Regions from separate parts of the Homo sapiens genome. Here region 2 is linked to region 1. The links come from fine-mapping of genetic effects on gene expression. A gene starts in region 1. The other region holds a variant in brackets. All regions are shown on one strand. Distances are from middle to middle.

Region 1 (5,367 bases):
ACTGGCCTACCCAAAGCACATCCACATCTCACTCTATCAGCTCCAAGCTAGTCCAGGCGACCAGCTTTGAGGGCAAAACACCTACCTGCCCCCGAGAGGCACTAGTTAGCATATCCTGGCTTCACAGGCCCCCAGATCACCACCTCCTCGGCTGCTGCCTTTTCTCTTTCAACCACCAAGTAGAAAAATGGCCTAATGGAGTACTTCTTCCTGAAAGCAGGACTTGCCTGTTAGTGGTGCCAAGGCTCCCTAGGTGACCTTAGATTTTGGATTTGTACAGGCCTTGACTTGAAAGGTCTTTTGCGTTTTGTGGCTCCTGTCTTCTCATCTGTGAGATGAGAGCCATGCCCACCTTTAAGTCACACAGATTAATAAGTACATCTACGGAAGCACCTTGGAAAAGATGTACAGGAGGCTGTGACCTCCAAGCTCCAGCCGACTGTTTGAAGCTGGAGCCCGTCACAGCTCAGCCCAATCCACCCACCCCCCAGACTAGGTCAGACCATCAAAAGCAACGGGAGCTTGGCACTGATTATCCAGCTATATTAAAAAAAAAAAAGAAGAAGACGGGGCACGGTGGCTCACGCCTGTAATCCCAGCACTTTGGGAGGCCAAGGCGGGTGGATCACTTGAGGTCAGGAGTTCGAGACCAACCTGGCTAACATGGTGAAACGCTGCCTCCACTAAAAATACTAAAATTAGCTGGGCGTGGTGACAGGCGCCTGTAGTCCCAGCTACTCGGGAGGCTGAGGCAGAAGAATCGCTTGAACTCGGGAGGTGGAGGTTGCAGTGAGCCGAGATCGTGCCATTGCACTCCAGCCTGGGCAACAGAGTGAGACTGTCTCAAAAAAAAAAAAAAAAAAAAGAAGAGGAAGAAGAAGAAAGAAAAAGTGACAGAAAAATTGCTGCAGTAACTCAGCTGGAAACGGGTGGGCAAACCTGGAGAACTAGCTAATGCCTGCCTGGCTATGCCACCCCTCGGATCTCAGTGTGTTTATCCAAGCCCACAGAGAAAGGTGGGGAAGGGGAGCTGGGGAGACAAAGTTCCCCTCAAAGACGGTAGCATCCTTTCCCAGGGAGAGCTCAAGCATAGGGGGGTTGGGCCCCAACGAAGGAGAGAAACCAGGTTCCAGGGTATGTGCATTGGGGCAGAAAAGCGGCAGCAACTGGTGGGCGTGGGGTTATTGAAATATTGGCAGGTTGGGGAGGGGACTGGTGGGACACAAATGGGAAGATGGGGTTGAGAGAGGTCCTGAAAAGGGGTTGAGGGGTTTTCACAGGAAAAAAAGGTTACTGGAGGGGAGGGTCTTCACGGCAAGGAGAGAGGAGCTTGGGTGAGAGGTCTCCATAGGGAAAATAGGAGATGGCTGGGATTTCCCCCGGGGAAAATGGGAAGGGGCTGGATATTGGGGGTCTCCAGAGGGAAAATGGGAGGTGTGAGTATCTCACTACAGGAAAGAGGGAATAAGTGGGCAAAAATGGGTGGGTGGTTGAAGCGGGGGTCTTGCCACAGGGAAACCACGGTGGCTGAAGATCTCCGTGGGTTAAGAAATGGAGGCCGAGAAGGTCTCCCCATGAAAACGGGTACCTAGGAAGAGCTCCAGAGAAAAAAGATGGATGAGGTTCCCCACGCGGGAAATGGGGCTTGGAGGGGGTTAATCTCTATGGGGAGGTCGGGGCGGGCAGTGGGGGAAGAGGCCACTGGGAGGTCCGAGTTAGCTGGCGGGGGGTCTCCACCCGGGAGGTCAAGGCGGGCAGTGGGGGAGGAGGTCACGGGGAGGTCCGTGTTGGCTGGTGGCGGGGGGTCTCCACCGGGAGATCCGGTTGACTGGCGGGCTGGGGGAGATCGGGGTTGGCGGAAGGGGGACGAGGGGTTTCATGGGGGAGATCAAGTTGGCCATGGGAGCGGTTCTCTGAGGGGAGGCCGGGGTCGGCCCGGGGGTGGGGGTCCCCGCACAGGCCCAGCCTCACCGTCCGCCAGGGCTTCACTGCACTCGAAGCTGATCTCGAACCGGAAGGGGCTGTGGAAAGGGCTCGGGTTCTCCAGGACCGCCACGTTCAGCACCGACACCTTGGCCATCGCCTCGCCTCGCCGCGCCGCAGCAGGGGCAGGGGCTGTGGCTGTGGCGGAGGCCGCGCCTGGGTCCGGTGGGGTCAGTGGGGTAGGGCTGACCAGGTCCACTCCCGCCTCTTCTCTCCGAGAACTGAAGTGCGCACCTAGTCCGCGCGCCGCCTTCAAATAGCCGGCCTCCGCCCTCTGGCCAATCACCGCCAACGCTCCCTGGCGGCGCGCGCACCCCCTCAGCCAGTCCTGGAGCGCCGATCGGCGCGCGCCCAGACTCCTCGGACCAATCAGCGGAGCTCCCTCTCCGCAGCGTGTGAGGAGGGCGAAACTATCTCCAAGCTTCTTAGCGTGTCCGCTGGAAACCAATCCCCAGCGTCTCCGACTTGGATGTCAACGGCGGGAATGGACGGAGTCACAGCGCCGGCCTCCTTCTGGCCAATCCTGAGGGTTCCCGCACCGGCGTGGCCCGCCCCTCGCCTCGCTTTTCCGGGAGATGCATCCCGCAGCGCGCAGCGCCGCCACCCGCCGAGCGGTGGCGCGCGGCGCTCGCTAAAGAAGGCGGGAAGGGCGGTGCTCGCACCCGAAGTGATTGGCAGGAGGGAGTGGGGCGGAGATAAAGAGGGTTTTCTGAGAGTTTATTGGCTGGATTGGTAATGGTGGCGGGAGCAGAAGGAGGCTCAGCTGGGGATTCGCTGGAGAGAAGCGGAAGTCGAGCGCCACCGCGGTGTTGGCGAGTGTGAAGAGAGAGGAGGAGCGTTTGCGGCCTCAGCGTCTGTCAACAGGTGAGCGTTTCCTGGAGCTTTTCTGAGTGGCTCCTGACCCTTGAGGTCCAGCGGCGCGGGAGTCCGTTGTGAACGTTGCGAACGTTCGGAGTGGCGGTCACGAGGCGCGCTCAGACCTCGGGAATCCGGCCGGGTTCGGATCCCGCTTTCGCCCCCGAGGGGTTCGGATCCCGCTCTCGCCCCCGAGGGGTTCGGATCCCGCTCTCGCCCCCGAGGGGTTCGGATCCCGCTCTCGCCCCCGAGGGGTTTGGATCCCTCTCTCGCCCCCTTGAGGGCTCTTGGGAGGTTTCAAGCGGACGGTACTGAAAATGGGAGTTCCAGTTCGGGGGCAGACCAGTGTTCAGAGTCCGGGCTCTGCTACTCAGCGCCCGAGGCAGCGCCTCCCCATTCAACGGGGGCCGTGGCAATTCCCTGACATGATTCATGACCACATAATACATCCGGAAACTTCTCTCCACCGCCTCCCGTCTGGGCCGTCGCCCCCGGCCTGGGAGACTCCAGGTCTCAGAGTCTCTGCCCCCACGGGCGATCAGTGCTGCCCAGTGGAAAAATAATGCCAGCCGCGCACCAAAATTAGGTGTAAAATTAACATTTTTTGGAAGCCACTTTTTTTTTTTTGAGATGGAATCTCGCGCTGTCACTCAGGCTGGAGTGCAATGGCGCGATCTCGGCTCACTGCAACCTCTACCTCCCGGGTTCAAGCGATTCTCCTGCCTCAGCCTCCTGAGTAGCTGGGATTACAGGTGCCCACCACCACAACCAGCTAATTTTTTTTCTGTATTTTCAGTAGAGACGGGGTTTCACCATGTTGGCCAGGCTGGTCTCGAACTCCTGACCTCAAGTGATCCGCCCGCCTCGGCCTTCCAGAGTGCTGGGATTACAGGCGTGAGCCACTGTGCCCGGCCATATCTTTTTTTATTATTATTTGTAATTTTAGAGGCTGGTCATGGAGGATTTCTTGAGGCCAGGAGTTCAAGATCAGCCTGGGCAACATAACAAGACCTCATATCTACAAAAAATAAAAGAATAAGCCAGGTGTGGTAGTGCATACCTGTAGTGTCTGCTACTCCTGAAGCTGAGGCAGGAGGATCTCTTGAGCCCAGAATGCTCCAGCCACTGCACTCCAGCCTGAGTGTCAGAGTGAGACCCTGTCTCTAAAAATTAAAATTAAATTTTAAAAAAGAAAGTTCAGTTTAGCTGTCTTGATAGCCGCAGTTGAGTGCTCCTGAGCCCGTGTGACAAGTGGCTCCTGTATTACTGGACAGCGAAGGTCAGAAACACATTTGACCAGGTCACTTCTCCGGATGAGAGCATTGTCTTTGAAACTCTATGCTTTGTCTCCTGTTAACCACCCAGCTCCAACTTCAAACCAGGCTAAGTAACCCTCTTTTTGTTAAAATTCTGACAAGCCACTCCCAGTGCAAAGCCTCTGCCCAGAACCTCTTCTCCTAGGCTCTTGGCATGGCTTATGCCTTCTTGTCATTCAAGTCTCTGTTCAAATGTCCTCTCCCCAGAGAGGCCTTTCTAAGGGTGCTCTGGACAGTGTTCAAACTCACAGGCCGTACGCCTGAACAGCACTGAGCCAAGGCACTAGTATTTCTTACCCAGTCACCTCTGTGGGCTCACTAGGACTCACTCACTGTGCTAGTATGTTTTCCTTTTCCTTTTCTTTTTAAACAATCCAGTTCCTGTGGGATTTTTTTTTTTTAATAGAGGTCTGTTGCCCAGGCTGGAGTGCAAGTGGCATAATCGTGGCTCACTATAACCTGGAACTCTTGGGCTCAAGTGATCCTCCCACCTCAGCCTCCCGAGTGGCTGGGATCACCAGTGCGTGCCACCATGCCTAATTTGTTTTATTTTATTTTATTTTTTTTTTGAGAGGGAGTCTTGCTCTGTCACTCAGGCTGGAATGCAGTGGCGCAATCTCAGCTCACTGCAACCTCCTGCTTCCAGCTTCAAGCGATTCTCCCACCTCAGCCTCCCGAGTAGCTGGGACTACAGGCACACGCTACCTTACCCAGCTAATTTTTGTATTTTTAGTAAAGATGGGGTTTCACTATGTTGGCCAGGCTGGTCTCAAACTCCTGACCTCAGGTGATCCACTCACCTCGGCCGCCCAAAGTGCTGAGATTACAGGCATGAGCCACCGTGCCCTGCCTCTTATACTTTTTAAATTTTTTGTAGAGACAGGGTCTCGCTGTTGCCCAGGCTGGTCTTGAAACTCCTGGCCTCAAGCAGTCCACCTATCTTGTCCTTAAGTGCTGGGATTACAGCGCCTAGCCCATTTTTGGTATCTACATCTCACATTAAGTTAAGAAAAATTCTTTTTAGCTGTTAAAAAATCGAAAGCTTTGTTTTTATTCTTTTGAAATTATTTGGCTTCAAGGAAACTCACATTTATGATTCGCTTGATTTCTTGGCAATCATTGCATACTTAGGGATATTTGTGATTTGAGAAAATCTAATTTCCAAATGTAATTCGATTGCTTATGAATACTAAATTTAATGATTAATGCAGTT
Region 2 (5,367 bases), 54 kb after region 1:
GTAAGGAGAGCAGTACACGTACACGCTGGGCCAATACAGGCCCCATCAGAGGGTGCTGTGCACAGCCTGGTGCCAGTCAGGGCACAAAGACACCCACGGAAGAGGCAGTCCCTCTCTTCCTCCCAGGCTGCACCCTAGAATGCTAAGACTCCAGAGTGGACCCCCCAGAGCCATGTATACTTCCACCGGGAACTCCAAGGCACCTTCAGCCCAACCAGACCAAAATAAGCCCCTACATCAGTGCACGGTGCCACCATCCTCCCAGGCCCTCCAGCCAGAACCCCAGGAGCTGAAACCCTTGACTCCTCTCTCACCCCTAAATCCAGTTCAAGAGTAAGTCTTTGGGCTGTGTATACTTCCAGAACACCCCAGTGTTGGTCCACACATCTGTCTTCAGCATCTGCCCCTCTAGTCCTGGGCCCTGGCCACTCCCCAAGTGCCCTCTGGCTCCTTTGCCTCCGACGTCCAGGCTCTCCTGGCAGCCAGAGGCACCACCTCCTTTTTTTTCTTTTTTTGAGACGGAGTCTCACTTTGTCACCGGGGCTGGAGTGCAGTGGCACAATCTTGGCTCACTGCAACTTCCACCTCCCGGGTTCAAGTGATTCTCCTGCCTCAGCCTCCTGAGTAGCTGGGATTATAGGCGCCCACCACCACGAGCAGACACGGGGTTTCACCATGTTGGCCAGGCTAGTCTGGAACTCCTGACCTCAAGTGATCCACCCGCCTCGGCCTCCCAACGTGTTGGGATTACAGGCATGAGCCATCGTGCCCAGCCTCCAAAACTTTTTTATCACCCCACATAGAAACTCCGTACCCACTAAACAATAATGCCCACTCCCCTTGTCGCCCAGCCCTGGTAACTTATAATCTACTTTCTGTCTCCATGGATTTACCTATTCTAGACATTTCATACAAATGGAGTCACAGGCTATGTGGCCTTTTTTTTTTTTTTTTTCCCAGTTAGATGGGGGTCTCACTCTGTTGCCCAGGCTGGAGTGCCGTGGCCCAATCTCGGCTCACTGTAACCTCCACCTCCCAGGCTCAAGTGATTCTCCCATCTCAGCCTCCTGAGTAGCTGGGACTATAGTCACATGACTCCTCTAAATGAACTCCTGGCTAACTTTTGTATTTTTTGTAGAGGCAGGATTTCGTCATGTTGCCTAGGCTGGCCTCAAACTCCTGGACTCAAGTGATCTGCCCATCTTGGCCTCGTAAAGTGCTGGGATTACGGCTGTGAGCCACCATTCCTGGCCTTATTTTGTGTCCAGCTTCTCTCACTCAGCGCCACGTTTCCAAGGCTCACCTACGTTCTAGCCTGGATCCGAGCTTCATTCCGTTTTATGGCTGCGTAGTATTCCACTGCATGGGTGGAGCACGTTTTCTTTATCCAGTCATCGGTAATGGACATGCGGGCTGTTGCACAGAAGGATCCTTTTTATTTTCTCCCTAGCTTTGCTGAGGCATCATTGACAAATAGAAATTACATCTATTTAAGGTTACATGATATTTTGATATCCATTATGTGTTGTGAAGTGATTACCACAACCAAGCTAACAACACATCCAACACCTCACCTAGACACCTTTCTGGTGTGTGTGGTGAGAACACTTGAGTCTAATTCCTCAGCAAGTTTCAAGAAAACAGTATGCTATAATAATTATTATTATTTTGAGACGGAGTCTCGCTCTGTCACCCATGCTGGAGTGCAGTGGCGCAATCTTGGCTCACTGCAACTTCTCCCTCCCAGTTCAAGCAATTCTCGTGCCTCAGCCTCCTAAGTGGCCGGGGCTACGGGTGGGCACCACCGTGCCTGGTTAATTTTTGTATTTTTAGTAGAGATGGAGTCTCATGTTGCCCAGGCTGGTCTCAAACTCTTGAGCTCAAGCAATCTGCCTGCCTCGGCCTCCCAAAGTGCTGCGATTATAGGTATGAGCCGCCACACCTGGCCTGCTATTATTAATTATAGTCACCATGCTGTACCTTAGGTCTCTGGAACTTTTTTCTTTTAGAGATGAGGTCTTGCTCTGTTGCCCAGGCTGGAGTGCAGTGGCACCATCAAAGCTCACTGTAGCCTCGAACTCCTGGGCTCAAGAGATCCTCCCACCTCAGCCTTC[C/T]GTGTAGCTGGAATTACAGGTGTGTGCCACCATGCTTGGCTGATTTTAAATTTTTTTGTGGAGACAGGGTCTTGCTATGTTGTTCAGGCTGGCCTTGCACTCCTGGCGTCAAGCGATGCTCCCGCCTTGGCCTCCCAAAGTGCTGGGATTACAGGCACAAGCCATTCTGCCTGGTTAAAACGTGTTTATCTGAAAGCTGAAAGCTTGTACCCTTTGACCTACATCCCCCGCCTTCCCCTGTGCCCTCACCACCATAACCACTGCTCTACTCTGCTTCTACGAGTTCAATTCTTTTTTAGATTCCACAGATAAGTGAGGTCATGCACTATTTGTCTTTCTGTGTCTGGCTTATTTCACTTAGCATAATGTCCTCCAGGTTCATCCATTCCAGAGGGGTGTTTTAAAAGACAATCTTGGCCGGGCGCAGTGGCTCACGCCTGTAATCCCAGCACTTTGGGAGGCCGAGGAGGGCAGATCACCTGAGGTCAGGAGTTCAAGACCAGCCTGGCCAACATGGTGAAACCCCATCTCTATTAAAAATACAAAAATTAGCCAGGTGTGATGGCGGGGACCTGTAATCTCAGCTACTCGGGAGGCTGAGGTAGGAGAATTGCTTGAACCTGGGAGGCAGAGGTTGCGGTGAGCCAAGATCACGCCACCGACTCTAGCCTGGCCGACAGAGCAAGACTCCGTCTCAAAACAAAAACAAAAACAAAAGACAATGTTGAGTGGTGGGTCTTCTGCTTTAACCCCTCCAACACCTCTGACTCCCGCCTTGTCTCCCTCCAGCCATGCGGGTTCCCACCCTCCAGCCTCAGCCTGTCCCCATCTGTGTCCCTCAGACTCAGAGGTGTCCTCCCCAGAGACGCAGACATGGGCCTCTGCCACCCTGTATTACAGTGCCCTGCAGTCACCGCCTGCCTGTGCATCCCTTGCCATGCTGTGACCTCTTGTGTCTCTGTTTTCTTCTTGGTAAAACGGGGATACCTCAGAGGGCAGCTGTGCAACAGGACAAATTCACACACGAGACACTCGGGATGCTCCTGGCACACAGACAGGGTGAAGCATCCCTTGTCCCCATTGTCACCTTCTCTATTAGCTCGGGCTGCCATAACAAAGTGCCATAGACTGCGCGGCTTACACAGCAGAAATTTACTTCCTCCTAGTTCTGGAGGCCAGAAGGCCAAGATCAAGGTGCCAGCGAATTCAGTTTCTGTGGAAATTCTCTTCCGCCTTCTCACTATATCCTCACAGGGCCTCTTCTCTAGACATGCATAAAGGGAGACAGATCCCTGCTGTCTCTCTCTTTTTTTTTTTTTTTCTGAGACAAGGTCTGGCTCTCTTGCTCAGGCTGGAGTGCAGTGGCACAATCCCGGCTCATTGCAGTCTCAACCTCCCAGGCTCATGGGATCCTCCCGCCTCAGCCTCCTGAGTAGCTGGGGCTACAGGTGCGTGCTCCTGTGCCCAGCTACTTTTTCGATTTTTTTTGTAGAGATGGGGTCTCGCTATGTCGCCCAGGCTGGTCTTGAGCTCCTGGCCTCAAGCGATCTTCCTGCCTTGGCCTCCCAAAGTGCTGGGATTACAGGCATGAGCCACAAGCGCCGGCCTCTCTCTTCTTATTGGGATACCAGTCCTCTGAGAGTAGGGGGCCCCACCCTTAAGATCTCATTTAACCTTAACTACCTCCCTCAAGGGCCTACCTCCAAATACACTCACGCTGGGAGTCAGGGCTTCAACCTCTGCATTTGGGAGGGAGGTGGGAAGATACAATTTAGTCCATAACCTCATCCATCCCATCCCTGCTCCATACTTTTACTTGACCACTCCTAGAGTTCCTTTATTTTATTTTATTTATTTATTTATTTTTTGAGACGGAGTTTCACTCTGTCGCTCAGGCTGGAGTGCAGTGGCGCGATCTCGGCTCACTGCAACCTCCACCTCCCAGGTTCAAGCAATTCTCCTGCCTCAGCCTCCTGAGTAGCTAGGATTACAGTCACACGCCACCACGCCTGCCTAATTTTTGTATTTTTAGTAGAGATGACGTTTTGCCATGTTGGTCAGGCTGGTCTTGAACTCCCAACCTCAGGTGATCCACCTGCCTTGGTCTCCCAAAGTGTTGGGATTACAGGCGTGAGCCACTGCTCCCGGCCTTTTCTTTGTTTTGTTTTGAGACGGAGTCTTGCTCTGTCGCCCAGGCTGGAATGCATTGGCGTGATCTTGGCTCACTGCAACCTCCGCCTCAAGTGATTCAAGAACCTCGAGTGATTCTCCTGCCTCAGCCTCCTGAGTAGCTGAGATTACAGTCACAGGCCACCACACCTGGCTAATTTTCGTATTTTTAGTAGAGACGGGGTTTCGCCATATTGGTCAGGCTGCTCTCGAACTCCCAACCTCAGATGATCCACGCGCCTCGGCCTCCCAAAGTGCTGAGATTACAGGCGTGAGCCACCGTGCCCAGCCTTCTAGATTTTCTTTCTACTCCCAGAAGAATGGAAACTCCTGAGGCTGGAACTTGGTTTCCCCGACTCCTGTCTCCTGGTTCCCTGAACACACAGTGGGTCCCCAAGCAAAAACTTACTGAAGACAGGGGAGTGACTAAGGACGGCAGTGAGGATAGCTGGAGATGGGGCGTCTGCCCTGTGACCTGGGGGACCACGCCTGACCCCCACAGGCAGGGTGCCATTGCCTTAGGGGTACAGACAGAGTTCCCCAGGAGCACGACGCCCTCTCCCCAGAGTGGCTCCCCTAGGAAGCTCCAGACACCCCCAGGAACCAGCCTCAGCTTGGCAGGTGGTGGGTGTCCCCCGGGAGACCCAGGCCTGACCATCCCTGAGGCCTCTGGAGGGGGAGGATTGAAATATGGCCCCCCGCCCCCACCGCCAAAAAAAAAAAAAAAAAAAAAACTCAGGCTGGGCACAGTGCACAGTGGCTCACACCTACAACCCCAGTACTTTGGGAGGCCAAGGTGGGAGGATCACTTGAGCCCTGGAGTTTGAGACCAGCCTGAGCAACATAGTGAGACCCCATCTCCACAAAAAACACAAAAATTAGCCGAGCACGGTGGCACGTGCCTATAGTCCCAGCTACTGGGAAGGCTGAAGGGGGAGGGTTGCTTGAGCCCAGGAGGTTGAGGCTGCAGTGAGCTCTGATTGCACCATTGCATTCTAGCCTGGGCAAGAGAGTGGGACCCCATGTCAAAAATACAAAAGATATGTTGAAGTCCCAACTCCTGATAACTCAAATGTGACTGTGT

Evidence for each region. PIP is the estimated chance that this variant, and not a neighbour inherited with it, causes the effect.
Region 2: its variant is fine-mapped to the expression of ASF1B in whole blood (INTERVAL, PIP 0.91).

Annotation. Positions count from the first base shown.
Region 1 is chr19:14,134,377-14,139,743 of GRCh38, forward strand. It overlaps ASF1B (anti-silencing function 1B histone chaperone), which reads right to left and starts at 2,213. Exons shown (of 4, transcript NM_018154.3): 1 at 1,972-2,213. The coding sequence starts at 2,080. ADGRL1-AS1 (ADGRL1 antisense RNA 1) reads left to right here and starts at 2,776. Exons shown (of 3, transcript NR_045214.1): 1 at 2,776-2,847. RefSeq lists a silencer at 1,979-2,028 and enhancers at 2,359-2,498, 2,576-3,202, 2,699-2,858.
Region 2 is chr19:14,188,277-14,193,643 of GRCh38, forward strand. All of the region lies in intron 1 of ADGRL1 (adhesion G protein-coupled receptor L1), which reads right to left. Among named protein-coding and RNA genes, the nearest start is that of ADGRL1, 15 kb to the right of the region's middle. The variant C/T (reference allele first, on the strand shown) is at 2,115.